7 separate regions of the Homo sapiens genome follow, and all the other regions are reported to be linked to region 1. Evidence: microRNA targets listed by miRTarBase, many of them from high-throughput screens and not tested one by one. Region 1 holds a microRNA gene; each other region holds the end of a gene's coding sequence.
Evidence for each region. The annotated mature microRNA hsa-miR-155-5p reads UUAAUGCUAAUCGUGAUAGGGGUU and lies in region 1 at 1,710-1,733, shown strand. An mRNA with a match to its seed (bases 2 to 7 or 8) in the 3' UTR can be bound and repressed. Matches are read on the target gene's strand: a 7mer-m8 pairs with bases 2 to 8, a 7mer-A1 pairs with bases 2 to 7 and ends in A, and an 8mer does both.

Region 1 (4,618 bases):
CTGTATGACAAGGTTGTGTTTGAGAACAAAAGGGGACCTGTGTGACATGTTTTATTTCAATATACATTTAGAGTTTGAACAAATAAAAAAAGCTATTAGAATTTTTAATATATATAACACATTATCAAAAACACTGTCACTTTTCTGAGTGCTCTAATCAGGCAATTCGTATGTATATTTAAAAAGAGGGAAAAAGCTAATTAGTATACTAAATATATTTATTTTAATACCTGTGCTCATATGTTATCTTTAAAGAACAGGAATAAAATTTATGGGTAGAATAGTATGCCAGCAATTTACCTTCAATACAAATTAAACACATCTTTTAAGAAAAGGGCGAGTTATATTGGCTGGGGTGGCACTAACACTACATTATTAATATGTATTTATTGAGCATTTACTGTGTCCAGGACCCTGTAAGGGGGAAAAAAAGTCCTTGTTTTTACAATCTTTATTGACTGAAATTCTGTAAAATGAATTGAATTCCTGAAGTGACATCATTTAACCCAAATTTTTTCATCATCAACTAATTCATCTCAGAAAACAGTAAAGTTTAAAAAAAAATACTATCAGTAAGAATAATATATTTCCTTGGTTTGGAAATTTCCAAACCACGATATTCTGCCCTGTCAAAATATATTCACTGGGGAATTTTTTACTTCATACGTTTCTTTTGAACTTAGTCACATTTTTATATCTAGCTGGTTTCATTATTAAATAAAAGAAAAGGTGATTCCCCTCTTGTACTGCAGGAGACCACATACTTGAATGATACTCTAACTTCTAGGTTCTGTTATAGTAACACTGAAATCAGAAACCTGTGGGAGAAATGTCACTTTATCTGAGAGAGTAAAATCAGACTCTAAAAGGAAGTAGCAAATTCATCTTGTTCTTTTTTTTAATCAACCCTCTGCCTAAGACAAGTAGTTTGAAACACAGAGGACTCTTTAAGTCATACTTCCTTTATGTAGTCAAAACCAAAGCCACTGGGTAGTGCTTTCCCCAAAGGAATCTCTAAATAGTAGACGGGGACATTTTCAGATAGATTCGTTTGTAGGCAAACCTCCATTGCTTGTATCACATTTCCTGAAAGAATAAAGGTAAAACTTCAACTATGTATTACAGAAAGAAAAATTCAGCCTGAACCCTACCCTTATAAAACAGGTTAATTGGGTTTTAATTTTCATAAATCATAAAGGACTATTTTGAACATTTGGGCCTTTAATTGTCTAGCTCCTAGATGAAGTACAAATCAGAAAAAAAAAAAACTGTACTGTGTCAGAATGCAAGCTTTCCTCTTTGCATTTTGGCATTTGAAAACTCCGAAGAGCGGTTTTTGTTTTTTATTTAAAGAAGATGATACATATGTGTACCCGATTCAAAACTAGAGAATAGAATTTAAAACATAATTTTCAAAGTCTTCAAATATGCCTAAAGGTAACAATGTCATCTTTTAATTGCCAATTTCTCTACCACTTTCAAAAAATTACTTCCAAGGATTTAATGAGCTCCTTCCTTTCAACAGAAAATGGACTATTTTCCTTTCAGATTTACTATATGCTGTCACTCCAGCTTTATAACCGCATGTGCATACACAAACATTTCTTTCTCTCTTGCAGGTGGCACAAACCAGGAAGGGGAAATCTGTGGTTTAAATTCTTTATGCCTCATCCTCTGAGTGCTGAAGGCTTGCTGTAGGCTGTATGCTGTTAATGCTAATCGTGATAGGGGTTTTTGCCTCCAACTGACTCCTACATATTAGCATTAACAGTGTATGATGCCTGTTACTAGCATTCACATGGAACAAATTGCTGCCGTGGGAGGATGACAAAGAAGCATGAGTCACCCTGCTGGATAAACTTAGACTTCAGGCTTTATCATTTTTCAATCTGTTAATCATAATCTGGTCACTGGGATGTTCAACCTTAAACTAAGTTTTGAAAGTAAGGTTATTTAAAAGATTTATCAGTAGTATCCTAAATGCAAACATTTTCATTTAAATGTCAAGCCCATGTTTGTTTTTATCATTAACAGAAAATATATTCATGTCATTCTTAATTGCAGGTTTTGGCTTGTTCATTATAATGTTCATAAACACCTTTGATTCAACTGTTAGAAATGTGGGCTAAACACAAATTTCTATAATATTTTTGTAGTTAAAAATTAGAAGGACTACTAACCTCCAGTTATATCATGGATTGTCTGGCAACGTTTTTTAAAAGATTTAGAAACTGGTACTTTCCCCCAGGTAACGATTTTCTGTTCAGGCAACTTCAGTTTAAAATTAATACTTTTATTTGACTCTTAAAGGGAAACTGAAAGGCTATGAAGCTGAATTTTTTTAATGAAATATTTTTAACAGTTAGCAGGGTAAATAACATCTGACAGCTAATGAGATATTTTTTCCATACAAGATAAAAAGATTTAATCAAAAAATTTCATATTTGAAATGAAGTCCCAAATCTAGGTTCAAGTTCAATAGCTTAGCCACATAATACGGTTGTGCGAGCAGAGAATCTACCTTTCCACTTCTAAGCCTGTTTCTTCCTCCATATGGGGATAATACTTTACAAGGTTGTTGTGAGGCTTAGATGAGATAGAGAATTATTCCATAAGATAATCAAGTGCTACATTAATGTTATAGTTAGATTAATCCAAGAACTAGTCACCCTACTTTATTAGAGAAGAGAAAAGCTAATGATTTGATTTGCAGAATATTTAAGGTTTGGATTTCTATGCAGTTTTTCTAAATAACCATCACTTACAAATATGTAACCAAACGTAATTGTTAGTATATTTAATGTAAACTTGTTTTAACAACTCTTCTCAACATTTTGTCCAGGTTATTCACTGTAACCAAATAAATCTCATGAGTCTTTAGTTGATTTAAAATAATTTTTATGGCCCATTTTCTTTTGCAAAGTACAAATTATAATTCCAGAAGCTATCTGCCAAAAAAAGACAATGGAAGAAAATTATGAGGACACTAAAGGGAACATTCCTGACTCCTAGGACACAGTATTCTCATGTAAGAATACCCATTTGGCTTTGCCCCACTTTCTGTTCAAGTTGTATGTGCTGCCAAGACAAATTTCTTCTCCTCACTTTCTGTTCAAGTTGTATGTGCTGCCAACACAAATTTCTTCTCCTAACACCTGGAATGAGCTTGTGGCTCCACGGAGCTCCCATGTAGGTAGAACACATTCAAGAGTGTTTCTTCAGGCCAGGCACAGTGGCTCACGCCTATAATTCCAACACTTTGGGAGGCCAAGGCGGGTGGTTCACTTGAGGTCAGGAGTTCTACACTACCCTGGCCAACATAGTGAAACCTCGTCTCTACTAAAAATACAAAAATTAGCTAGGCATGGTGGTGCGTGCCTGTAATCCCAGATACTCAGGAGGCTGGGGCAGAAGAATCACTTGAACCCAGGAGGTGGAGTTCACAGTGAACGAAGATCGTGCCACTGCCCTCCAGCCTGGGTGACAGAGTGAGACTCCATCTCAAAAAAAAAAAAAAGTGTCTGTTCAATTCATTTTATCTGCCACTGTATATCTACAAGAGGACTCCTTGCTTTGAGTCCCAGTTCTTCAAAATCCTGCTTGCTGCCTAAAGACACAAAGTCATAGAACATTAGGACTGGAATAAACTATTGTAGTATAACCTTCCTGCTGTTACAATAAAAAGCTATAAACATTACAAAGGCACTTAAAGAAAAGCTGTGCTGGGAAATGCCTTATTTGAAGAGCATTTGGGTACACTCACATGAAGCTTTGGAAAGTTACTTAATCTTCCTCTAAGCCTCAATTTCTTCATCAATAAAATGATGAATATATTTCATATTTCATAAGATGTAGGCTTAAATGAAATCATGCATGTGAAAAGCACAATGTCTATTATGCATTAAGTGTTAAACACAAACTTTCAAACTTTTACATTTCAGTCATTTAAATCAAATGATCTACCATAGCAGATCTCCCCAAAGACACTCTAGCTCCAAACTAACTATAATCAATCCCGTGGTGACGACCCAAAGAACCAGGGTTCCTGGGTTTTCTCTCACGCCCAGCCCACCTAGGCTTCTGACTGCCTATCTCCTCATCTTAGAGGGATTCCTCCTGACCAGTCATTACAAAAATTCTTGGAGCATGAGCAAGACTGAGTCTGTGTTTGGATTGGAGGAAGGGGTAAGTAACAAGGTATATATATGTATATGTGTGTGTGTGTGTGTGTGTGTGTGTGTGTGTGTGTGCGCGCGCGTTTGTGTTTAAGTTACAAACTAAGGATGGTTTTAAAAAATTGCAAAATGTTAAGAGATTTATCTAGGATCTGACCCACTTCCCCAGAAATTTACGGAATTCAAGACCAAGCCTTTCGTATTCACTGTCATCAGTTAGATGGACCCAGTAGCTAAAAAATTAAGGAGAAAAAAAATAGAGGAATATGAGGGAAAAAGTCAAGTCAGAGGACTGAAGAATATATACAGAACATAGAATATTAGAAATTTTCTGAAAATAGATGATAGCAAATACCTCAAGAAAGTGAGGAAACGTGAAAAGGGAGCTTAAAGAAAAATAATAGAGTCCATACATGGGACACAAGCACAAAAAGCTGACTGAG
Region 2 (4,618 bases), not on the chromosome of region 1:
ATAGTGGAGAGAAACCCTACAAATGTAAAGAATGTGGGAAAGCCTATAATGAGACCTCAAACCTTTCTACACATAAAAGAATTCATACTGGAAAGAAACCCTACAAATGCGAAGAGTGTGGAAAAGCCTTTAACCGGCTCTCACACCTTACTACACATAAGATAATTCATACTGGAAAGAAACCCTACAAATGTGAGGAGTGTGGCAAAGCTTTTAACCAATCTGCAAACCTTACTACACATAAGAGAATTCATACTGGAGAGAAACCCTACAAATGTGAAGAATGTGGCAGAGCTTTTAGCCAGTCCTCAACCCTTACTGCACATAAGATAATTCATGCTGGAGAGAAACCTTACAAATGTGAAGAATGTGGCAAAGCTTTTAGCCAGTCCTCAACCCTTACTACACATAAGATAATTCATACTGGAGAGAAATTCTACAAATGTGAAGAATGTGGTAAGGCCTTTAGCCAGTTATCCCACCTTACTACACATAAGAGAATTCATTCTGGAGAGAAACCCTACAAGTGTGAAGAATGTGGCAAAGCTTTTAAACAATCCTCAACCCTTACTACACATAAGAGAATTCATGCTGGAGAGAAATTCTACAAATGTGAAGTATGTAGCAAAGCCTTTAGCCGGTTCTCACACCTTACTACACATAAGAGAATTCATACTGGAGAGAAGCCCTACAAATGTGAAGAATGTGGCAAAGCTTTTAACCTATCGTCACAACTTACTACACATAAGATAATTCATACTGGAGAGAAACCCTACAAATGTGAAGAATGTGGCAAAGCTTTTAACCAGTCCTCAACTCTTTCTAAACATAAGGTAATTCATACTGGAGAGAAGCCCTACAAATATGAAGAATGTGGCAAAGCTTTTAACCAGTCCTCACACCTTACTACACATAAGATGATTCATACTGGAGAGAAACCCTACAAGTGTGAAGAATGTGGCAAAGCCTTTAACAACTCCTCTATTCTTAACAGACATAAGATGATTCATACTGGAGAGAAACTCTACAAACCTGAAAGTTGTAACAATGCTTGTGACAACATTGCAAAGATTTCCAAATATAAAAGAAATTGTGCTGGTGAGAAATAATAGAAATATGAATGTGACAAAGCCTTTAAATGGTTATCACACTGGATTGTAGGTAAGGTAATTCATTCTGGAGAAAACTTCTACAAGTGTGAATGAACAGTGTGGCAAAACTTACACAATGCTCAAACCTTATTGCACAGGAAAGCCTTTATACTTGAGAACAAATGTACAAATATAAAGAAAGTAAAAAAGTGATTAATATCTGTGCACATCTTATTCAACATCAGAGTTTATATTAATAGCATTAAAAGTGCAATTACTGTCAAAAGAGTTCAAAAAATAAGCATTTAAAGTGCTGAAGAGGATTTATTTTGAAGACAAACATTACAAATATAAACGAAGTTGTGGTAACTTTACTTGTAACACAGATCTTGTTGTATTCATTCTGTATTAGAGCAAACCCTGAGGCAATTGCTCAAACTTTGTTCAACATCAGAGAATTTATATCGAAGAAAAACCCTGTAAATGTAATAAATTTAGAAAAAAACATTTATTCAAAAACTACAGGTTAGAAAATTCCAGAGAGTTCATATTAAAATATTTTTGCATATACAGTAAATAGAAAAAAATATTTAATTCAATGGTAAGTTTATGTAAATATCAGAGAATTTATGTTAGAAATATATAAGGCAATGACACTTCAGACTTTACACTGAATCAGAGTTCTGAGTTTAGAAAGTAATCCAAAACTAAACTTGGCAGAAAAATTATTTGTTTATAACTTTAAAAGAGTAGAAGATTTTTTGGAGAGTTACAAGTATACTTTTTTTTAGAAAGATTACAGATTTTTTTTAAAAGTAAATAACTCTCAAATTACTTCATACAAATAATGTTGTAATTAACTCAAATTACTTCGTGTTAATGTTGTAATTAACTCTCAAATTACTTCATGCTAAGGAAATTAGTTTTTCTTTTTCTTCTTCTTTTTTTTTTTTTTTTTAGATGGAGTCTTGCTCTATCGCCCCCCCAGGCTGGAGTACAGTGGCACGATCTCAGCTCACTGCAACCTCCGTCTCCAGGGTTCAAGTGATTCTCCTGCCTCAGCCTCCCAAGTGGCTGGGATTACAGGCGCAAACCACCATGCGTGGCTAAATTTTGTATTTTTAATAGAGCCAGGGTTTTGCCATGTTGGCCAGGCTGGTCTCGAACTCGAGACTTTAGGTGATCCGCCCAGCTTGGCCTCCCGCAATGCTGCAATTACAGGTGTTAGCCACTGCGCCTGCCTGATGTTGTTTCTTTATTCCTATTGTATTCATATGTGAAAGCATGTGACCAAAAGATATGAGGATTATTTTTTATTAGGTGAGCATTTATGACCTCTTCTATGAAAGAGTAAGGACATTAAAATGCATGATGAAAATCTAAGTAAAGAGGTTCTTTGTGATTCACTTACAGTACTGAGTGATGCATGAGGTAGGTGTTCTGAGTAATATTCTGCATTATATTGAGAGACAAATTTTTAGTTTTAGTTAAAATTAAAAATAAATTAGTATATTATTTTACTAATTTTACTTTTATGAAAATGCAGTACATGTTAAAAATTTTAGATTATGTGTGAACTTAATTTCTTAATTCAACATTTTTAACAGTTTAAATATTGTGCATTCAATCAAGTCACATTATTCCACTTACTTTAACCTAGTCCACCTTACTCAAGGGTGTAGGTAAAAGGTGGTAACAAGGCCGGGCACGGTGGCTCACGCCTGTAATCCCAGCACTTTGGGAGGCAAAGGTGGGTAGATCACCTGAGGTCGGGAGTTCAAGACCAGCCTGACCAACATGGAGAAACGCCATCTCTACTAAAAATACAAAATTAGCCAGGCATGGTGGCGCATGCCTGTAATCCCAGCTACTCGGGAGGCTGAGGCAGGAGAATCACTTGAACCCGGGAAGCAGAGGTTGCGGTGAGCCGAGATCATGCCATGGCACTCCGTCCTGGGTGACAAAGTGAGACTCCCTCTCAAAAAATAAATAAGTAAATAAAATAAATGGTGGTAACAATACACTATTTGGTAAAAGAATGCACTAACATCTGTAGTACTAATCTTTTTTCCAGTGGCTTTAAACTGCAAATAAGGAATGTTGTTTCTGTAGGTAAAATTTTTATTTATTTTTTCCCATTTAAATTTACTTTTGTTAGTTTTTTCAGGCATATAATATTTATGTTATATATGGCATATTCTGATAAGAGGCATACAATATGTAATAATCACATTAGGGTAAATGAGGTATCCATCACCTTTAGAATTTATTTTTTGTATTATGAACAGTTCAATTGTACAGTTTTAGTTTTTTTAAAATATACGATTGTTATTGACTACAGGGTTATTTTTATAATAAAAATTATATACAAGTATAAAATTTACACATTTCTGAGTCCTGAATAAATAAAAATAATTTCTTGTATATTTTTCTTTGAATATGTGGCCTCTCTACTTGCAAACAGATACAGGCTTTTAGTTTTGATTTACATAGAGTTAAATGTACACATCTATTAGTCTAAATATAAACCTTAGGTGTAAGAAGATTATGGATTAAGTGTGTTTGAGTATGAGTTTGTAACTATTTTCAGAATAATATTGGAACAAGACATCATTTTAATAAGGTGTCTAATTTTCTTTTCTTTTTTCTTTTTTTTTTTTTTTTGGAGACAGAATCTCACTCTGTTGCCTAGGCTGGAGTGCAGTGGCGTGACCTCCGCTCACTGTAACTCTGCCTCCTGGGTTCAAGCAGTTCTCCTGTTTCAGCCTCCCTAGTAGGTAGGACTACAGGCGCAGGCCACCATGCCCAGATAATTTTTGTATTTTTAGTACAGATGGGGTTTCATCATTTTGGTCAGGCTAGTCTTGAACTCCTGACCTCAGGTGATCCACCTGCCTCAATCTTCCAAAGTACTAGGATTACAGGCGTGAACCACTACACCTGGTCAGGTGTCTACTTTTTTAGAAAACAAAAATCCTCAAAAATGAATGCAAATCTATACTCTGGTTTGTATTGAATTTTACTGTATAATTTTACGGCTTATGGTTCAGAATCTTGCCATTCAAATTCTCTTGTTTTCACTTGTCTGGTACTCATGCTAGGCCCATAAATTTCTTGTTTCTGATATATATTTGTTGTTTTATAGTTTATGAGGTATTCATTTTGTGAGCTGCTCTGTGATTATAAGAATGATTTTAATGAAATTTAGTTATGGGCTGGGTGCAGTGGCTCACACCTATAATCCCAACACTTTGGGAGGCCGAGGTGGGTGGATCACTTGAGGTCAGGAGTTCAAGATCAACCTGGCCAACATGGTGAAACCTCATCTCTACCAAAAATAACAAAAATTAGCCAGGCATGGTGGCATGCTCCTGTAATCCCAGCTACTGGGAGGCTGAGGCAGGAGAATAGCTTTAACCCGGGAGACAGAGGTCACAGTGAGCCAAGATTGTGCCACTGCACTCCAGCGTGGGCGACAGAGCAAGACTCCACCTCAAAATAAAATAAACTTAGTCATGTACACAAAA
Region 3 (4,618 bases), not on the chromosome of region 1:
AAAGTACACATTTTTATTAATAGCTGAATTTTAAACAGCCAATGTGTGGAGGTTATTTACTAACCAACAGGAAACACCTGCAGCAGGCTGCATACTTATAGAGCAGCAAACTTAAGGGAAGTCTGTAAGGCTTTACTGTCTTCCTTTTCAAGTCTCTTCACTGCTATGCACAGTTGAGGGCATAACCTTAAAAGTCTGTAACATAACAAAAACATTTTAAACATCAAACATCGTGCTTTCCCCACTGTGGCACATTTTTAGAGTAAAGCATTTGGCCAACTGGATGTTACAGCATGATGCCCACTACATTATGTTTAAGCTTCCATTCCAGTTCTGAACCCACCAGACCCTTGGAGCAGCTGGAATTACCAAATCAACAGGGTATCAGTGTAACTCAATCCTACATGGAGCAAACAGACAAAGCAGTTAGTTCCTCAAACACCCAATTTACTTGACAGAATCAAAGACCAACTTTATAAGTTTAGAAGTTTTTAAAAGCAGATACACATTTAGAATTAAGCTAAATGTATATCCTCCGTGTTCCCCCATCCTCACCCTCAACTCTCACACACTCACCCCCTTGGTAGGAGAATGGTGAGAAGTGGATGAAACTTGATGCTTGACTACATGGCTCCAGTAATGCAGTGAAAAGACAAAAACACATCAACGTGACGTTCCAGGGAAATAAACGCGAAATCATGCATCCAACTGGCCACTAAGGGTTGGCTGTACAGAATTGTAGTATGCGTATGGAGAAAATGCTAACTGAACCTTTCTAAACAAATAAAAATATACACAATTATTTTTCCAATAGCTCAAGTATTGACTTATTTTATGGGCAGATGATACCAAACTAGCAAAAAGCTTTATGCTAAAAATGTGCCTTTGTGGGAAAACCAGCATGTTCGGTACTTAAAATATTTCCATTCTGAACTGAAGTCAGTGAATAGGCATGTCTTGCAACTTCATTTGCTTAGCAGGGTCTTGGTTTGATTTGTAAAAACTGGGACATAAAATGTTTTACTAGCACTTGCCACTTAAAGTCCTAAATTTGGTGTATTGTGACCGTTGACAAGTAGTAGCATTTCCCCCGCCCCCAAAAAATCACAATATCAATTCTGTGGATATTTTAAAAGTTTATTTCTATTTTAACTAGCCCACAGACCCCATTCTTTGAGGGCTGATCTGATTTCTGACAAATGGTCTATAGACCCTCCTCTCGGAAACTTCCAAAAAAGTCTGCACCTTCCATCATGATGCACATTTTAAGTTAAAATTGCCAATACAACCCTTAAAATGCAAGTTTATTGAATAAAGCTGAGAAGAGCAGTAAACAGACAAAAAATGCATCCACCTAAATAAAAAAATTCACATATTTACATAGTTCAGTAACTGTTAAAAGTTTTCACATGCAGAGGTTAATGCACAGGAAAATGTTGGTAATAGCGTCTGGATGTCTTGAAATGCGGAAAGCAATGTATAGACACACAAACACATTAAGGTTTAGCTATAGGTCAATTAACAAACCTATGCAGTCCCCACAGAGTCACACATTCTAGTTCCAATTCCTCCTTTTAGGCACAAGCAAGTTGCCACATTCTTTGTAATGGTTCACACTGACCATTAATGGTGTTGAACAACAGTAGCAAGTTTAAATATCCCTTCATTTACAGAACCATCCATCCCACCAGGGTAGTATGCAACATGCTTCAAAGAATAAGAAGAGAAATTTAAAAGCCCAGATTCTACTCATAAAAATATGAATGGAGAAAAGCAAGTAGTGTCTGTGCAACACAGTGCAGTATATTGTACAGAATATTTTTAAGGCCATGGCAGTCTATAAATTAAAACTGATATTCATTAAAAGAACTTACTGTTGACTACACTCTGAGTGCTCAACACATTTGGAAATGCAGTCTACATAAGTGCTGCTTAACAAAAGAAACAAAATCACACACAGTGTGAGGCAACACATAAGCAGGTGTACCATAGAGTTTTATCTACTACAGTGGTCTATATGAATAATAATTTACAAATGAACCAGTATTAATATGTCCCTTTATGTATACGGAAGTCGCTAAACTACAAAACATGTCCATTTGAAGTTTTTAGACATCTCTGTATCATAGAAGCAAACAAACAGCATCAGTTCCTCAGTTCTCTGTGTGACTGATTATTAAACAACCTGTAGACATTGAGCATGATTACATTAGATAAAGCAGGCAGGTCTAGAGTTGTCACAATAATCAAGATGTCTAATGGCACCAGTCAAAAGAGTGCCAAAGCTTACATCAGTAAGAGAGAAAAATAAAAATTTTTTATTTGTTTATAAGTATCTTTTGTGCTGAAAGTCAACTTTATGACTGGATATAAAAAGTCAGGAGTTAAGAGTGTCATGCAGCAGCACTGATTTAATGACTGGAGATAGAACAAACAGATGTTTGAACAAAGACTGACATTCTTAACAGGTTTTATTATATTGGGTGGAATGCTCTAAATTCATGAACGCTTTTGGAAAATCTTCAATTCTCAACCCCTTAAAAAAGTATCCTGAACCAGGAAGAAAAAACAAGAGACAGAAATAATGATCTGGACAGATACAAAACAGGATGCTTTAGTTCCTCCCATATCCCAACTGCCATCTGGTGATAGAGTTCTCAGAAAGCAGGATATCTTTAATATTCATCAGGCAGAATCTCACCAGTGCAAAGAACCAACATTGATCTGGTGCCTCCGCTCACTCTCTGCAGACCATTTTGGATTCCTAAGATGTAATTATACATTTCACATGCATTTGTGAGATAAAATAAACATTATGTTTACATATATCCCACATGAGTCATTCACGCCTAAAGGTTTTCTAAATACTGTGTGTGGCACTAGAAACTTCATGCTGTATCAAGTCAGTGTCAGTATTAAGCTACTGGACTCTATAATGAAATATTATAGATAGACATTTACTGAAAACCAATATAAAAATCTGGCCCAGAAAGACCAGAATGGAAATATGCAATTTTCTTGATTTAAGATGGTCATAAGTATATGGGGTTTTTTTTCTGTTTTTAAAGCTCTACACATGGTTTAAGACAGGTATGTGTAAGAAGCCTTTTTGTGTGTGCTGACTTTATCATGACAACTCTAGCTGATTCTTTATGAAGGATTAGGGATATTCATCTTCAGCAGTGCACATGAGAAATAAACTCTGAAAAAGGCAATTTCTGGGGTTTAGGAAGGACCGTATTCTGGGAATTACTTCAGAGGAACGGACAATAATTCTAGGATTATAGCCAAGAAGGACTGGAAGACTTCAGGAGATGCTTCAGCTTCTTCTAGATTTTGAATGCTGAATAAGCCACTGAAGTGTGATATCTAAAGATAGAGGGGAAAAGTGAAGACATTAAAGTTAAAAAACTAAACATCAAACAGAGACAATATTTAAAAGGCAGCTAATTCAAGGCACACACTATGCCTGACCTCTGCTGCTTTTCTGCATCTGCATTACCATACTCCATTACCCGAACTTCAAGAGAATATGAGGAATTATCAGAGACTGAAGCGTTTTCTGATTTAAAAATTAAGTTGTGTATAGGACGGCTGGTGCCACCTTTTATGTGTTGCCCACACAATCAATCAGGTGTTGCATGCAAATTGCCAGGAAGGCAAAAAAAAAAAAAAAAAAAAAGGAATAACCCCTGTTTGCCCTCAAGGCGCTTTTAAGTATAATACACAGAAAAGATGCAGTAATTCCCGGGGCTTGGGGGCCACCCCACAGAACTCCAGGTTAAAAAAAAAAAACAGCAAAAGAATGTTAAAAGGCATGAAACATTGTGGAGCTCTGGATGGATTGTGAGTGATACAATGTGACTAAAGCACAGGGATGGGAGAGGAGGCTGTCACTGCCAAGGCTGGTGCAGGGTTCACACCATGCCCTTTTGACATCTGGGGCTGGGTAATTCTTGTCCTCACTTCTTCAGAAGGGTACATGAGAGTCTATCAGAAGCACCACTCTATTCTCCAAGCCTGAAAGATGAGGGTAAATTCACTACCAGTTTCCCAGCTAACATGCATTAACGAAACACCACAGGGCTGAGCTATAACAAACATGAACTGTTCACCATTGTGGAAGCAATGATTTAACCCAACTACTGAAGAAGCACCTCTGCACCTTAAAATGGGGACAACAGTGCACAATACGAGCAAAGCCACACTCATTGGAACTGAATGGGAGAAAGGTAAATCTGAAGTGAAATAACCAAATTTAAATATTTAAGAAATTCATGGCCGGGCACGGTGGCTCACACCTGTAATCCCACACTTTGGGAGGCCGAGGCAGGTGATCACCTGAGGTCAGCAGTTTGAGACCAGCCTGGCCAACATGGTGAAACCCCATCTCTACTAAAAATACAAAAATTAGCCGAGCACGGCAGCGGGCGCCTGTAATCCCAGCTACTCGGGAGGCTGAGGCAGGAGATCACTTGAACCCAGGAGGCGGAGGTTGCAGTGAGCCAAAATTGCGCCACTGCACTCCAGCTGGGCCACAAGAGTGAAACTCCATCTCAAAAAAAAAAAAAAAGAAATTCACTAAAAAATTACACAAAGCCTCTGTGGATACTGATAG
Region 4 (4,618 bases), not on the chromosome of region 1:
GTAATAGCTCACTGCAGCCTCGAACTCCTGGGCTCAAGTGATCCTCCCACTTCAATTCCCCAATAGTTGGGACTATAGGCACACACCACTCTCATAATTTCAATTTCTAATTGTTGCTAAGATAATTTTGACTTTGTATCCTGCAACCTTGTTAAATTCACATTATTTCTACGTTTATATCAATTTTCTACAATCATGTCATCTGTGAATGACAATTTTATTTCTTATCTGTAAGCCTTTCATTTCTTTTGCTTGCACTGGCTAGAATCTGTACAAAGTTGAGAAAAAGTGGTGATAGTGGGCACCTTTGCCTTTTTCCTGATCTCTGGAGGAATACGCTTTTCAAAAATTCACAATTAAATATGTTGGCTCTAGGTTTTTTTTGTAGAACTTCTTCTATTAAGAAGTTCCCTTCTATTCCTAGTTTGTGCAGTTAAAAAAAAAGCAAGTGCTGAATTGTATTGCTTTTTATGCATCTATAAAGAACTTGTCTCCTTTATTTCCATAAATGCAGTAAATAGTATTAATCTTCCTATTTTAAGTTACAGGCAGTCCTTGATTTTTTACGGCTAACTGAACTCTTGCTGGTTTCTATGGTATAAATATTCCCATCAGAGCAGACTTTAAATTACTAGTATGAGGTCACTGAACTCGCAGCTGGGAAAGATGTACTATCGGTTTTGGTGGGCCAGGGTGAGCTAGTTTGAATACATTTTTGATTGTGTAGTTCTCAATCACCGAGACAGAAATTTATCATAACTTCACTAGACCAGTAAGAACAAAGCCACTTTATAAACTTACCTATTTTATAAGTCTCTCACATAATCCATGAGGTAGATCAAAATAAAAATATAACTCCCTTTTTTTTTCCCCAAGTCTTTACTAAGTACCTAAAAGCACTCAACACTATATTAATTGCTGGGGAAAATGTAACTCTCAGAACTTACAATCTAAATGATCTAAACATGATCAATAGAACATGCTCCAGAGAAAAATCTTAACACAGCAGCAGCAGCAATTTAACTGCTAAAGAAACCCAAAAGTAGGGTGGGGGTAGTTTGGGTGGTCTTCCTGCAAGAGGTTACATGGTTCATCATCATTAGGTTTTAATGGAAATACGTGATGTGGACTAGCAAAAAAAAGAAAGATACCATATTAAAATAAGAGGAGGATACAAATGAAGGGATGAAAGTAGGAAAGAAAAGGGCACCTGTGAAAACTCACAAACTTAAAATAACATTAGTGTCAACAATGGGCACTGTGTTGCTTCACTTGCAACATACAGCACCATCAGGTAGGTATGCCTCTTTATCAACTCTGAAAGTGGCTAAATGGTGCTTCTGTGGCACTAATCAAGTACACTCATTCTGTTTTTCTGCATGTAGTTGACAGTGGACTCAGAAGTCAATTCTCTATTGACATGTTTTATAATTATAGAGTCCTTATAGATTTCTCAGGGTGAGACAAAATGCTTTCAAATATCCAGGGTGTAAGTCATAGAGATGCTTAACAACTATGATCTACTTGCTGGCTCAGAAAATGTCTACCTAAACTTTATAATTACTGGTCAAGAGCCAGAGAAATAGAACATGCCCATTCGGATTCCTTTGAGTATCTGTCCATAAAGAACACACAGCAGTACTGTATAATTCTGAGGCTGATAAACAGGTAAGATGTATAAATTATCTTATCCACAAAGAATTCAGTGTTAGTTTACTAAGTTAGTTCTCAATCCTCACATAAAAGTCATTGAAAAACAGAATTTTCATATATACATTAATAATTTTAATGATTTCTTTGTATCTAACCAATTTAGGTAATATTTTCTTTTACACAGAAGGTCCCAAAATAAAGAATAATACACAGAATACAGTCAATAGGTTATATCAATTTACTTCACATAAGAGCATAATTCAGGCCTTTTCCATTTAATAACAAAAACAATCTGTACAGAAAACCCAAAGGCAACCACATAGCATATGTAAAATGTGCAAATACACTTTAAAATGCAAGTTATTCTATAGCATTTGCAAGATAGAATTTCACTGTAATTAGGGAATCTAGTTCATCCTAACTTAATAGTCTTTTGCATGTATAGACAATGCAATTCTACAAGGCACAACTCAGCGTTGATGCTAAAGTATGAAACACATCCTCAGATTATTTATTTGAAAATATTAAAATAGCATCGTTTATTATTTTTTAATGAGTCATGAGCTCATTTCTAAAGCTTCATAAAGCATTACACTGATAACATATGTGTGGTCAGGACAAACTGTTCCCTGAACTTAAAAGGTGAAGGACAAGACCCCATATTATTATCCTGTATTAAAAAAGGAAATATACATATATGTACACAGACACCCCATATCACAGACAAGAAACTTCCCATAATTCAAAGGGAGACCATTTCCTTATTAGCAAAGGTGCGCATTACAGTATTTCATGACAGTTAAAAATTACACACCTACCACCTGTTTTGGTCAATCTTGCTAAAAAAGACACTGAAATAGACAATTTTCTTCTTTAAGGTAAAGACAATGTCTAATTTAGAAAATCTTCCTCTTGAGATTGCACAGTGAAAGGTATCAGTTAATTAAATATAAAAGCTTACCGTTTTTGTTTTTTTTTGAGACAGAGTTTTATTCAGTCGCCCAGGCTGGAGTGCAATGGCGCTATCTCGGCGCCCAGGCTGGAATGCAGTAGCGCGATCTCAGCTCACTGCAACCTCTGCCTCCCAGGTTCAAGTGATTCTCCCGCCTCAGCCTCCTGAGTAGCTGGGATTACAGACACTCGCCATCATGCCCAGCTAATTTTTGTATTTTTAGTAGAGACGGCATTTCACCATGTTGGCCAGACTGGTCTTGAACTCCTGACCTCAGGTGATCCACCCATCGTAGCCTCCCAAAGTGCTGGGATTACAGGCATAAGCCACCATGCCCAGCCAAAGCTTACGCTTTTAAAGAAATTATTTAAATCTACACAGAAAAAAATATCAACTTATTAAAAACTATTAAGAGCACTGTCTATAATTCAAAATCTTTCAAACCCAATCACAAAGCTCTTTGCTGTTTTATTGCCCATCCCTGAGTAAAGATTCTATCATTTGTAATTTTTTAATAACGTAAATTTTACATTGATAAGAATGATGTTTAACAATTTTTTTGAAAATATAAAATAAACCCTATATCATTTTAGTAAAAAAAAAAGAAAATATAAATGCTCTTTGCAAAGACCACCATTCATAAAAATTGTAAATATTTGTATGTCAATTTCTGACATCCTTTTTACTGGGTAATTTCTGTTTTTATGCCGTTCATATATCGCTCATTTCCTCATAACCTGTTATTTTGTACCTTTTGTTAATAGGAGTATTTAATAAGTAATGGAGGAAAAGTACAATATAAAACCTAATGGAACTCTGAAGTGAGATGTGTATTTCCCTGTGGTAAAAGAGTTTTACTGGAAACAATTAATGCGATCCAAATAGACAAAAATATCTATGAAAGAAAGAATACATATGGTAAGCATCTTCCTTGTCTTTGGCTTAGCCTTCTTGACCAAAATCTTCTGTAAACTTCTTTAATTTCAACAAGTCATGTTCATTGACTGTAGGTTTTGTGTTAGATAGTGACCGCAACATATCCGACTGTCAGGGAAAAAGAAGGGTAGGGAGGATATTAATAATAGAGTTAACAAAATAAAAAACCGTCATATTATCATTATTGCTATGAACTTTAACCTAAGTTTAAATATGAATATTTGCAGTCTGCCATAAGATACTAACGATAAACTCCCTATTCTTTTTTTTTTTTTTTGAGTTGGAGTCTCACTCTGTTGGCTCAGGCTGGAGCGCAGTGGCGTGATCTTGGCTCATTGCAACCTCTGCCTCCCAGGTTCAAGAGATTCTCCTGCCTCAGCCTCCCAAGTAGCTGGGATTACAGGCACCTGAAACCACACCTGGCTAATTTTTGTATTTTTAGTAGAGATGGGGTTTCGTTTTGTTGGTCAGGCTGGTCTCGAACCCCTGACCTCAGGTGATCCGCCTGCCTCTGCCTTGCGAAGTGCTGGGATTACAGGCGTGGGCCCCTGCACCCGGCCCCTATTCTTTCACAGATCTTTCATGATCTTTGATCATGTTATTCCTTTGTGTAGAAACGTATACTTTCTTCCCCTGAACTGATCAAATGGCTCCCCAATACTTATCAGAAGGACAATCCCCTTAGTCTGAGGATCAAGGCCTCCAAAGTATGTTCATGATCTAATTTCTGGCCTTATCTCTTTTTCTTAAACGAGATCAATTTTCCAAGTCAGTATAATTCAAAAGGAAAATATCATTCACTTACACTTAAGTGAAGCAGAATACCATTCTATGAAAAATCTACTAACCAGAATTTTAAAATAATTAGTTACAATTAAGATCGAAATGGTTAGAAAAATATGCTAATATCAGAGATTCATTAAAAAACTAACTTCTAAGCCTAGACTCCTGTAAAAGGATATGAAAAATAATGAAAAGGACCACTCTAAGTTACTAAAAATTCTTCAAAGCTGAACAAAGTACAAAAAATAAAAAATAATACACCAAGGATTAAAACAAAGGGGTTTCTGAGTAACT
Region 5 (3,000 bases), not on the chromosome of region 1:
AAAAAAGGGCAGAATTTGTTCTAAGAAATGTGAATTACCCCCATTGGGGTGGTTGGAGTGAGGGTGGAGGGAAGAAGTGCTTGAATTTTTCCCAAGGAAAAAAAGCTTCTAAAGTGTTTCTGGGTTGCTGCCTGCAGCCACTATAGTAACATTTCAACACAAAAGCATCCCTAAAGTCACTCGGTATGTGTACTGTAAACTTAAAAAAGCCCTTTTAACATTAAAAAATAATGTACAAATATAGTACCTTTTTAATTAAATAGGATGCAGCTGGCACTGGCGGTAGCATTTTTATGTCAATTAATTAAAATTGAAATGTGTAACCAGACACTGGCTTTTTTAAGTGCTGCTGAAACAAACACACATATTTTACACTTACAAATAAATGGACAGTGGTGTGCTTCAAGCTACCACACACAAACAATAAATAGTATCAATTACTACTTCCTTCTTACTTAAGTAATAGAAAAGTGGCTTATTTATCTAAGCATACTTGGTATACGGCCTTTAGAAGGCAAAGTGTTTTGCTTTCCCATCCATTTTTATTAGAAGGAGTCAGGATGAATTCCAAGGGAGACTCCCAGGCAGGAAGCACAGGTCCAGCTGCCCCACACGCTGTCCTGCAATGCTGGGTGGCCTACAAAGGTGGGTTTGAGAAGGACCAGAGAACAAGGGGGCCGTTAGGGTTTGAAGGCAAATCTCTGCTAAATTCTGCTTGGGTGGGTGGAGGATTCCAATGAAGGGACCCTGACTTTTCGGGGAGGAGAGCAGGGATTGGCCTGGTGGTGTCATTAGATGATCCTTGTTTGGATTAAGGATTTGCACTTGGAAATCTGCCATGTGACTGCCAGGAGTGGTCAAAGTGCATGCCACAGAAGGACTCTAGCTCAAATTCATACACACTAGTAGACACCAAACTCCACAGCCCCTTGCCCTCCTTGGCCCTCCATTGTAAGAAATACAAATGTCAAAGGCTGTCTGTAGGTCCCCGTGGGCCATATGTCCTCTCAGCTCAGCTACCTGCTGGAACCTGCTGCCTTTTCAGAGGACCTACTCCCAAAGGACAGTGATGTCATTCTGCTCCTCTAAATGCAAATTCTGTGGAAAGCTGCCAGTGGGGCCTTGGGTAAGGCAGATTGGGGTTCCCCTGTTGTGTTGTTTGGTAAGGCTGGTTGGTTAAGAATCTCTGGTGCAATTTTGCTCTCCTGTACTAGGTGTCTCATAATTGAACCCTCTATCCACATGTGCGGCTTTTAGCTGACTATGTCTTTGCTATGAAGCCTGGCGATTTAGAGTTTTGCTTAACTATGAAACCACAGAACATTTTTCTGTAGTTCAATGATTTACTTGTGCTTGTCTTTTTAATATGACAAGAGTCATAATTACCCCAAAGAAATTAGAAAACCACATCACTCCAGCATTTCATGCTGATAAAGGGCTAAAGGTTGTTTTTTAAATCCCTAATTACCGCTTTAGAAGGCAAAGCTGTGTTAGAGGCATTCAAAGATCTGAAAGAACTAAACATAACATTTCCTTCATACATCACAAAAACAATCTATATCTAAAATATTTGGAGATGGAAGTATTTTTTAAAATCACATTGTGCCTGGATGAACTGAAATTGCTTAGCAATATTTCAGATATGGCTCTAGACCACTGAAGAAATTTGTTATTTAATAAAGAGCACTTTTAGAGACCGAAGTCAACATATCAATACACTAAGAAATGTTTCAAGGGTCCAAATGTCATTAAATAATTATAAATATATCTTTAAAGTTATATGACCATTCACGTTAGCAAGTTACCTCAGATTTTACACATATTCATAATTTAAAAAAAAAGAAAACAACACATAGCCAAACGCAATCACTATCTATACCATTATGGCTATAATAATGTATTGCCATTTTCAGTTTTGCATAAAAGGAGAAGGCAGGTTTTAGGGATGGGATTTCTTTTTGGTTCAGTGGGAAAAGGGGAGAAGGAGTGTTAAAAAGTAAAATAAAATAATCTATCCTGATCAGTTATTTTTGAAGTCACTTTCTTGGAGCAGGAAAAAAAAAAAAAAAAACGAACCCAACAGTTCAGATGAGGACCTGCAGCATGTCTGAAAGCAGAAATTGGAAGAGTTATTCTGAATGATGGTACTGTGATGGAAGCATCCATTCTACCTCATGTCCCTTTAGTGCACCTCAACTGGTTTTGTGAGCTGTCTGCGGAGGGCACTGGTCCATACACAGCTGCCACCGTGAGGGTGTGAAGTTTCAAAGCACAGAGAGGAAGCGGCTTTGCTCTTCTCCCTCCTGAACCTGGAGTCCACCTCTCTGAATTGGCATATGAACAGGTTATTGATGATAACAGACCAAACAACAAAAACAAAAATACCTTTTCCCTTCTTTGTTCCTTTGTAAAAGTACATCTTAAATAGTAAACAATCTGAAGCTCGATTGCAATTGTCTCTCTTGAGCCTTCTGCTTCTCAATATCTACCCTCTTATGGCTGCAAGATCATGACTGAGTGAGTGAATGAAAAATCTTCTAAAAAATAGGCACTTTGTAGATAGCTAATCGATATACATATATATGCACTCTCTCTATATATGTATATATTGATACGTGTGGGATGTGGCCCCCAGATACCACTGGGCCACTGCTGAGGAATTTCAATATGGTCGCCAAACAGATTCATCCATTCTGCCACTAGAATTCAAAACAGTTGGGGAACTGCTGTGGCTTCCATCAGCGTCAACACCATCATTCTGGTTAGGCAAATTTGGATTTAATAGCGTGCTGCCATTCGAGGTGGTGGTGCATGGCGGAAGCATTCTGGAAGGAGACCGGTCTCCCCCCGGCACCATGGGAAACTGATAGGATCCTGACGAAGTGCCATAGTAGAGATATGGAGTGCTGCTGGTCTGGAAGGGTCCACTCTGGCTTTGGGAAGAGCCGGGGTAGGGTGGTGGCAGGTAGGTGTGGTAGTGAGTGGTGGCGGACATACCGA
Region 6 (4,618 bases), not on the chromosome of region 1:
TAGCCCCTGTGAAAGCCTCACACGGTCACCACAAAGTGTCACCTCAGTTCTGTGATCCATAGCAGTTTTACTCCATTAACCGTGGCTGGCCTGAAATGCCCGGTCCTGGTCTTGCTTAGATGAGGACTTATGAAACCAAGGAAAATGTCAAAATAAGTATAGAGAAAATGAAACTCAACAATCCTATACTGATCACATTGTGTAAATTGTGTTTACACAGGTGTAATAACACATTTTGTAATAACTGGGCTCTTTGTTTAGGCTGATTTAAAGATGCTTAAAAATGCTTAACAGTATTTTTACTACCTGTATCCCTAGGTCGAGTTACCTGCATTTGACTCATAAGCAATTTCTAAGATTTGGTTTGTCATATTATAAGTCTGCTCCATTAGGTGTCTGCAGTTTAATTGAACATGTAGGTGGTATTATAGTTTAAGGAGGGTTTAAGCATTGAATGTTAATCAAAAACATTGATAAGCAAAGGAAAAATGAAAGTGACTCCTTTCATGACTGTTGTATGCTCTGTAAGTTGGGTGTAAAGGTTTAAGGTGGAAAAAACGTACCTCGAGGGAATTAATTTTAATATACGAGATAATAATTAAAGCATGATTGGCCGGGGCGCAGAGCAGCAGGTCCGCTTTGTCTCCCCGGGGCGCCGCGCGGTGCAGTTGGGGCGGCGCGGCGAGCGGGGCGCCCGGGCGCGGGTGCGGGGTGTCGGGGCGCGCGCGCCTGTTGGCCGCTCGCCGATTCCTGCCGAGTGTAGAGAGGAGAGGGAGTGAACAGGGAGCGGGGCTTTTGTCTGTTGGTCTCTCTGGACTGAAAACAGGGAGAATAGAAGCCCAAGACTAAGCTTCTCAAAATGGTTTACTACCCAGAACTCTTTGGGTCAGTCAAGAACCATTTCCAAACAAGGACATGGAGGGAAGGTTTCCTAAGGGAAGACTTCCTGTCCCAAAGAAAGTGAACCGCAAGAAGAACAATGAGACAAACGCTGCCTCCCTGACTCCAATGGGCAGCAGTGAACTCCGCTCCCCAAGAATCAGTTACCTCTACTTTTTTTAATCGTAACACCTCCATTTGTATTACATATGGTGTATGGGTATTGATGAGGTCATGGTATTATATATGGGATTTTTTTCTGTGTAAATCATTAAGTATAAGAAGAAACTATGTGACTCTGAGCCTTGCTTTAGAGAATTTACAGTGGACAAATAGGTATCATCAAACCAGTTTTTAATCATTCTGACTCAAGTGAAAATGCTCAGAATTTCACACCGTGAATCCACGTTTACAACCCTTACAGGTGGGCCTTCAGGCCTGGTTCGCTACAACGTCTTCCACAACTCAAACTCCCACCGTGCTCACACAACTGGTCCACTCCTGAGTCCCCCCTTTTTTTTTCATTTAGAATGTAACAAACCTAGTAGTTTATGCAATTGTCTGTATATCTCTATATTTTATCCATGTACTCTTTTGATGTATAGAAGTAGTTTGAAACTCATTGTTTCCTTGTGGTAACTGACCGAGATGCTGCCACAGGACCTGAGACACTGATGAATGGTGCTATTTTGGACTTTCAACATGCTCCTTGGCGAGGTAGCTCTGATGGAGTTATTTTTTATTTCCATGTTCTAAGAAGGTGTTGGTACTCTGTTTCCCTGAATGTTGTTCTCTAGACTGGATTGACTTGTTTTCCTTGTGTCTTCAGTGTGGCTTTCTTCCTCAGTGTTGTAGGTTGAGTGAATGCTACCAGAGTGTGAGAGACGATTGTCTCGTCGGCTGGCACCCACAGACATGCAGTCACGGTAGTGGGAGCAATCACAAAACTGTAATTTACTTACCAAATCTCTTCCTTTCCGTTGCCTCGCCTGCCTGACTTAGAGAAAGAAAAGCAATAATTTTACAGGCATTTTGAGGTGTCTCTTTGGGTTCTTTCTGTTTGAAACGGTATTTGTGGAAAAAAAGAGCAAAACCTTTTTAAATAAATTCCCCCTGAAAAAAACCCAAAACACTGGCATCTGAGTAGGAATATGAAAATGACACCTTTTCCAAATATTAAATTGGAAAACAATGTCTACAAAATCATGGTACTTTTTTAAAAGGCAGAGCATTCTTTTTTGGCAATTTTGATAAGCAAGGTGTAGATTTACATCTTTGTCCTTGCTCCCAACGAAATGGATAAACAAAAATAAATTACCATCTACTCATGGAATGTTGTTGTGTTAGCCAGTCTGAAAGCCCACCTTAATTTTTATATAACTGTCTTTTAGCTCTTCTTTTGACAGGGCAGGCCTTGTTCTGAACTGTTTCGCTTCTGACTGTTAAACACCGATGACGCATGCACTGCACTTCTTTGTTTTCTTCTTGCTCCCCCATTGGCCTGAGTTTCTTGTGCATTACTCCTCTCCCTCCTTTGTTAGAATAGGTATATCAGCTGTGTAAATAGAGCAAGAAAACAGTATTCTGCATCTGTGGCATTTATGTAGAGTTGCAGCTGTATACTGCTGAAAATGCAGGCTTTTGTAACAGTGTGATCTTTACCGATGCACTCATGACAAGTACCCAATGTATTTTAGCTATTTTAGTAGTATTTGTTCAATAAATATGCAAGCTGTAAGGTAAAAAAAAAAAAAAAATTAAAGCATGATTACATGGGAGTGTTGCTTCCCATGTACAAAAGCACTTCTTAGGAACTAAAGCACTAATACTTTCTGCAAGAACAATTGTCACTGATTTCTACTTTAGAACTATAGGGCTGTGCAAAATGAAACTAAAATCAGAAACTATGACACCAAACAATCCATGTATTCTTACGAAATTCAGAAGATGGCCGTGTCTCTGGTTACTAGGACTTCTAGAAATTGAGTGCCTTAAAATCCTAAAAATTTTACAGACCATTAATATATTAACATGAAACCTGATCTTCTGCTAATGTAGTATCTGTAATTACTATGAGAAACGTTCTATTTAATGATTTTCCATGTTTCTAAAAGTAAACTACACATAAGCAATTTTTAAACTTTTAGTAAAAGAAAAAATTGGTTTGATCACACTACCTCTATTCTGGCAAACATGAACCCCTTTAAGGAAAATCATTCAAGTCATATGAACCCATTGACTAATTTATGCATCATTTTAACTAATTTCTTCCATAGGATTTCTATGTTGAAAATGAAACAATCTTCGATTCTTAAACAGGAGATGGATTCTACGAGTGGCTTTCTATAGGAGAAAAAACTTACTAGAATAAATGTTTTATTAGCTTTAGCACATCTACTCAACATTCATAGAACTGCTAGGAATAAAAAGTGAAAAAACATGAAAATGAATGAAAAATGAGACTCAGAGAGATTAGCTGACGTGGTTCAAAAACAAAAGCCTCAGAGGAGGCCTGCATGCCATGTATGTACTGCTAAAGGGATGTGGTTCTAGAAACGAAAGGGGAGAGAATAAAATATATATTGGCAATGCTTAAACCAAAATGTATTAAGACAAAACAAACTTAAGGCACTAAAAACCAAGGATAAAAGTACTGAAAATAAATCTAATGCTAAAACTTCTCACTGAACTCCAAAAGCAAATCTTTTGAACCACAGTATCATGTTAAAAACTAAGATTTTACAGCTGTGCTACTACTAATAGTGTCTGTGTGTGTAGATACACAGATGATATATAGATGAACAGAGAGCTGCATAGAGACATAGATTGATAGAGCGATAGATTTTAAAACATTTATTTGCCATTCACTACTTTGCAACAATTCTCCCAATTTGGTTTGAAAAGAGACAACAGTTGACTTTTGTTCAAAGTCCAAGTAAAGAGAGAGGCCATGTTTGGAGTGAGAATCCTTTAATAACTATATTTATTTCCAGAGAACAATAAATACAGAAATTGCAAGCAGTATATGTAACAGTAATATTTTCTTTAAATACAGAATCACCTACTTTTATACAACTTAACAGGCAAACATGTTATTTTGTTGTTGTTGTTTGGAAATTAGCATTGGGAAAAGCTATATAACAGAGGAAATTCCAAGTAAAATCAAACAGTGTTCACTCTTAACTCTAAACACAGTGCTCCCACTACTGGTTCTGCATTGAGGCGGAGGGGAAGGCCAGAGGCAGGCTTAGCTTCGGGCGGCAGCGGTCTGGGGCTGCTCGGACTGGAGCTGCTTGCCAAGGTATTCCCTGAAAAAAAAGAATGAAGTAAGGAGAATGAGAATTTCAATAGCAAAGAATCACTTCCAAAATTGAAACACATTATGCACTGTCATATATACTTACTTTAACATCCAAAAATAACTAAAAAGTCCTAGAAAATTAAACTTTTCCAAATTTCCAAAGTACTTGTGCTGTATGAATTCTACTTCATGTATCATACACAAACAAGTTATGACAAAGACAAACTAGTCATTCTCCTATTTTTATGAATAACTTGTAAAGTTATTACGATTACACAAACAGGTGATTACAAGGAAATGTAATTACTTCCTGGGGAAAGACTACTTTCCTGTTCAGATAAAGGTCTTGTTTACTGCTACTGCCATTTCTGCAATCTAAGAAGTTCAACATCACCTCAATTACGATTCTGAATGACCTCATAAATGAAAAACAAATGT
Region 7 (3,000 bases), not on the chromosome of region 1:
CTATTCACTCTGTTCTCAGAGTCTCTCAGGATCTGATAGAAACAGAAAAGAAAATGGAAGACTTGACTATGCAGATGTTTAATATGGAAGATGATATGCTGAAAGCAGTGTCTGAAATAATGGAGATGCAGAAAACCCTTGAAGGAATTCAGTATGATAATAGCATATTAAAGATGCAAAATGAACTGGATATTCTAAAAGAAAAAGTTCATGATTTTATAGCATACTCAAGTACAGGAGAAAAGGGAACTTTAAAAGAATATAATATAGAAAATAAAGGAATTGGTGGTGATTTTTAAATTCATGACATTTATTCTGATGAACCATATCATTATACATAAATTGATTAGTCCATTGATTTTGAGTTACTTTGATACGCCTCATCTTATCCTACATTATTGGAAAATAAATGAGATGTCCACACAAATGGATTATCCACATAATCAAAGCTTATCTTTTTAAGCACTAAAACTTACTTCATTGTAACTATTTGAAATAGAAATAGTTCTTTAAAAATATTTCTCTACTTTTAAAACAAGATACTTAATATTTTTAATGTTTTTTAAAGCATTAATGAACATCATCATTAATTTCACCTATTATATTGTACCCACATATATTGATGTCTCCAGGGGCTAATAAAGAGTATTTACCACTTCACTAAATGACCCCAATTTGCCATTTTCAAACCTATGTCTCATACCTTTTCTGTCACCTGAACTTACTGTCAGGTTGGTTGGTAATGTGCCTGCCTCAGCCAGTTCACTTTCTTAGGTAATTCACTGCAGGTTAAGAATCCACACAACCAAGTTCATGGGAATTTTGTGTAAAATAAAAGATAACATGCCTGAGGGAGAGCCTGGTGCCTTTGCTATGAATTAATATGCACTTTCTGAAAACTCTAAAGCCTGGGAAACATTTTAGTTTTTGTTAAGGTTCTAAACTGTGTTACAGATACTTGTAAGACTTTTAAAATCAGAGTAAGTATGTTCTTACATAAGGCCTTTCTTAGGAATTATGTGTATATAAATCTTTGAAATATCTTTATATACCTGAGTTTTAGGTTCCAACTGTGTTAGACATGAGTTTGCTAGATCCATGGTCTCTAGATGGTTTACTTAAATAGGCCAGGCGCAGTGGCTCACACCTGTAATCCTAGCACTTTGGGAGGCCGAGGTGGGCAGATCACGAAGTCAGGAGATCAAGACCATCTGGCTAACAGGGTGAAACCCTGTCTCTACTAAAAAATACAAAAAATTAGCCAGGCGTGGTGGTGGGTGCCTGTAGTCCCAGCTACTCAGGAGGCTGAGGCAGGAGAATGGTGTGAACCCGGGAGGCAGAGCTTGCAGTGAGCCGAGATCGCGCCACTGCACTCCAGCCTGAGTGGCAAAGTGAGACTCTGTCTCAATAAATAAATAAATAAATAAAAATAAGCCTGTGGCCTGTTTTGAGGGAAAAGTAACATAACTCTGATAATTAATTATGATAATAACTATGATAGTTAAAAATACGTCATTTTAAAGATTTCCCAAACCACACCACTAAATTTGTTTTATGAATTGATTTTATTTTATTTGAAATTATATAATGTAGTCAACTGCAATATGGAAGTTTGTTCTTGTTTCTTTGTCAATAACCTTACCAGTTTTATAATGCAGTTTTTGATGGAATTAAACACAAAGAACTTGAAAGCAGTCAGTTACAAAAAGGTAGTTGTGGTCAAGTAGTTTTAATATGTAAATTTGCAAGTTTTTGGAGAACCCCCAAACTCCTTCTCCACTGGAGTTAGGAGGGCCTGTGGTAGACAGCGTGAATCATGAAAATAAGCCTGGAGAGTTCTGTTATTAAGGGGCATAGCATTAATTTTTGCAGTCTTAAAATTACACTTCTTGACTTCTGAATGTCTCTTATTTGCGTGCACTGACAAAATTCTATTTGTTTACTTTTATATTAATGGTAATAAAATAGATTATAAAGTAAGCTGGAACTTTGTTGTTTTAACCTCCATCCTGTCAAGGCAAATGTGATCTCTTATCTTATATCCTTTACGTTTAAATATTTTTTTCTCACCGATCACCACATTTAATATGAGGTTATTATGAACTTATATATACCATGGTAATGGTTACTGAAAGTAAATGGAAACAAGGTGGCTACTGTTCTCTATAATGACACAAGGGAAAGGAAGAAAACTGCACTTCTACAAGTATAACATGAGAAAACTATTAAAGTATATATGCGTTTGTATGTATGTATAGATATCTAGATAGATATATCCTGTATTTATGAAGAGGTTTTCCTATTAAGAAATTATTAGAGAGATTTAGATGTACTTAATTTGTCTTTCTCTCTTTCTTCCATTCATTTATTTAACACAGATGCTTAAAATTTCAAAAACTTTCCTGTGTATCAAATATTAAATTACATTGTTAGTCTTTTCTTTAGGGAAAATTACCAATATCCTAAAACACATTTTTGTATCTTTGTAACTGATAATAAATTTTATGTCAATTAATTTCTTATAAAGTGGCCAGGCACAGTGCCTCATACTTGTAATCCCAATACTTTGGGAGGCTGAGGCAGAGTGGCTTAAGCCCAGGAGTTTGAGACAGCCTGGGTAACATAGTGAGACCTCGTCCCTACAAAAAAAAAAAAAAAAAAAAAAAAAGTGTAAGGAGGAGTAAGGCCAGGCACAATGGCTCACTCCTATAATTCCAACACTCTGGGAAGCTGAGGTGGGAGGATCGCTTGAGCTCAGGAGTTCAAGACCAGCCTGGATAACATGGTGAGACCTCATGTCTACTAAAAGTCAAAAAAAAGCGCATCCCTGTAGTCCTAGCGACGCAGGAGGCTGAGCCCAGGTGTTCAAGGTTGCAGTGACCTGCACCATTGCATTCCCAGCCTGGGTGACAGAGCAAGACCCTGTCTCAAAAGCATAACAGTACTGGATCAGCTGGGCGCAGTGGCTCACCCCTGTAATCCCAGCACTTTGGGAGGCCG

Region 2: miRTarBase lists ZNF492 as a target of hsa-miR-155-5p. Seed matches in the 3' UTR shown: 8mer at 1,350-1,357.
Region 3: the mRNA of ARL8B is a reported target of hsa-miR-155-5p. Seed matches in the 3' UTR shown: 7mer-A1 at 1,419-1,425.
Region 4: the mRNA of VPS4B is a reported target of hsa-miR-155-5p. Seed matches in the 3' UTR shown: 7mer-A1 at 3,473-3,479.
Region 5: miRTarBase lists RUNX2 as a target of hsa-miR-155-5p. The part of its 3' UTR that is shown has no 7-base or 8-base seed match.
Region 6: the mRNA of ATP6V1H is a reported target of hsa-miR-155-5p. The part of its 3' UTR that is shown has no 7-base or 8-base seed match.
Region 7: the mRNA of IKBIP is a reported target of hsa-miR-155-5p. Seed matches in the 3' UTR shown: 8mer at 567-574 and 8mer at 1,856-1,863.

Annotation. Positions count from the first base shown.
Region 1 is chr21:25,572,274-25,576,891 of GRCh38, forward strand. It overlaps MIR155 (microRNA 155), which reads left to right and starts at 1,707; the gene lies at 1,707-1,771. It overlaps MIR155HG (MIR155 host gene), which reads left to right. Exons shown (of 3, transcript NR_001458.3): 3 at 1,620-2,895. RefSeq lists a silencer at 1,651-1,830 and enhancers at 3,382-3,531, 3,924-3,973.
Region 2 is chr19:22,664,157-22,668,774 of GRCh38, forward strand. It overlaps ZNF492 (zinc finger protein 492), which reads left to right. Exons shown (of 4, transcript NM_020855.3): 4 at 1-3,515. The coding sequence ends at 1,109. Among named protein-coding and RNA genes, the nearest start is that of ZNF492, 32 kb to the left of the region's middle.
Region 3 is chr3:5,177,415-5,182,032 of GRCh38, reverse strand. ARL8B (ARF like GTPase 8B) reads right to left here. Exons shown (of 7, transcript NM_018184.3): 7 at 1,122-3,369. The coding sequence ends at 3,320. Among named protein-coding and RNA genes, the nearest start is that of EDEM1, 8.0 kb to the left of the region's middle.
Region 4 is chr18:63,387,428-63,392,045 of GRCh38, forward strand. It overlaps VPS4B (vacuolar protein sorting 4 homolog B), which reads right to left. Exons shown (of 11, transcript NM_004869.4): 11 at 1,763-3,649. The coding sequence ends at 3,548. Among named protein-coding and RNA genes, the nearest start is that of KDSR-DT, 22 kb to the left of the region's middle.
Region 5 is chr6:45,546,968-45,549,967 of GRCh38, reverse strand. It overlaps RUNX2 (RUNX family transcription factor 2), which reads right to left. Exons shown (of 9, transcript NM_001024630.4): 9 at 1-3,000. The coding sequence ends at 2,663. Among named protein-coding and RNA genes, the nearest start is that of RUNX2-AS1, 28 kb to the left of the region's middle.
Region 6 is chr8:53,711,838-53,716,455 of GRCh38, forward strand. It overlaps ATP6V1H (ATPase H+ transporting V1 subunit H), which reads right to left. Exons shown (of 14, transcript NM_015941.4): 14 at 3,706-4,187. The coding sequence ends at 4,127. It also overlaps the pseudogene NREPP2. Among named protein-coding and RNA genes, the nearest start is that of ATP6V1H, 130 kb to the right of the region's middle.
Region 7 is chr12:98,623,229-98,626,228 of GRCh38, reverse strand. IKBIP (IKBKB interacting protein) reads left to right here. Exons shown (of 3, transcript NM_153687.4): 3 at 1-1,980. The coding sequence ends at 299. Among named protein-coding and RNA genes, the nearest start is that of IKBIP, 20 kb to the left of the region's middle.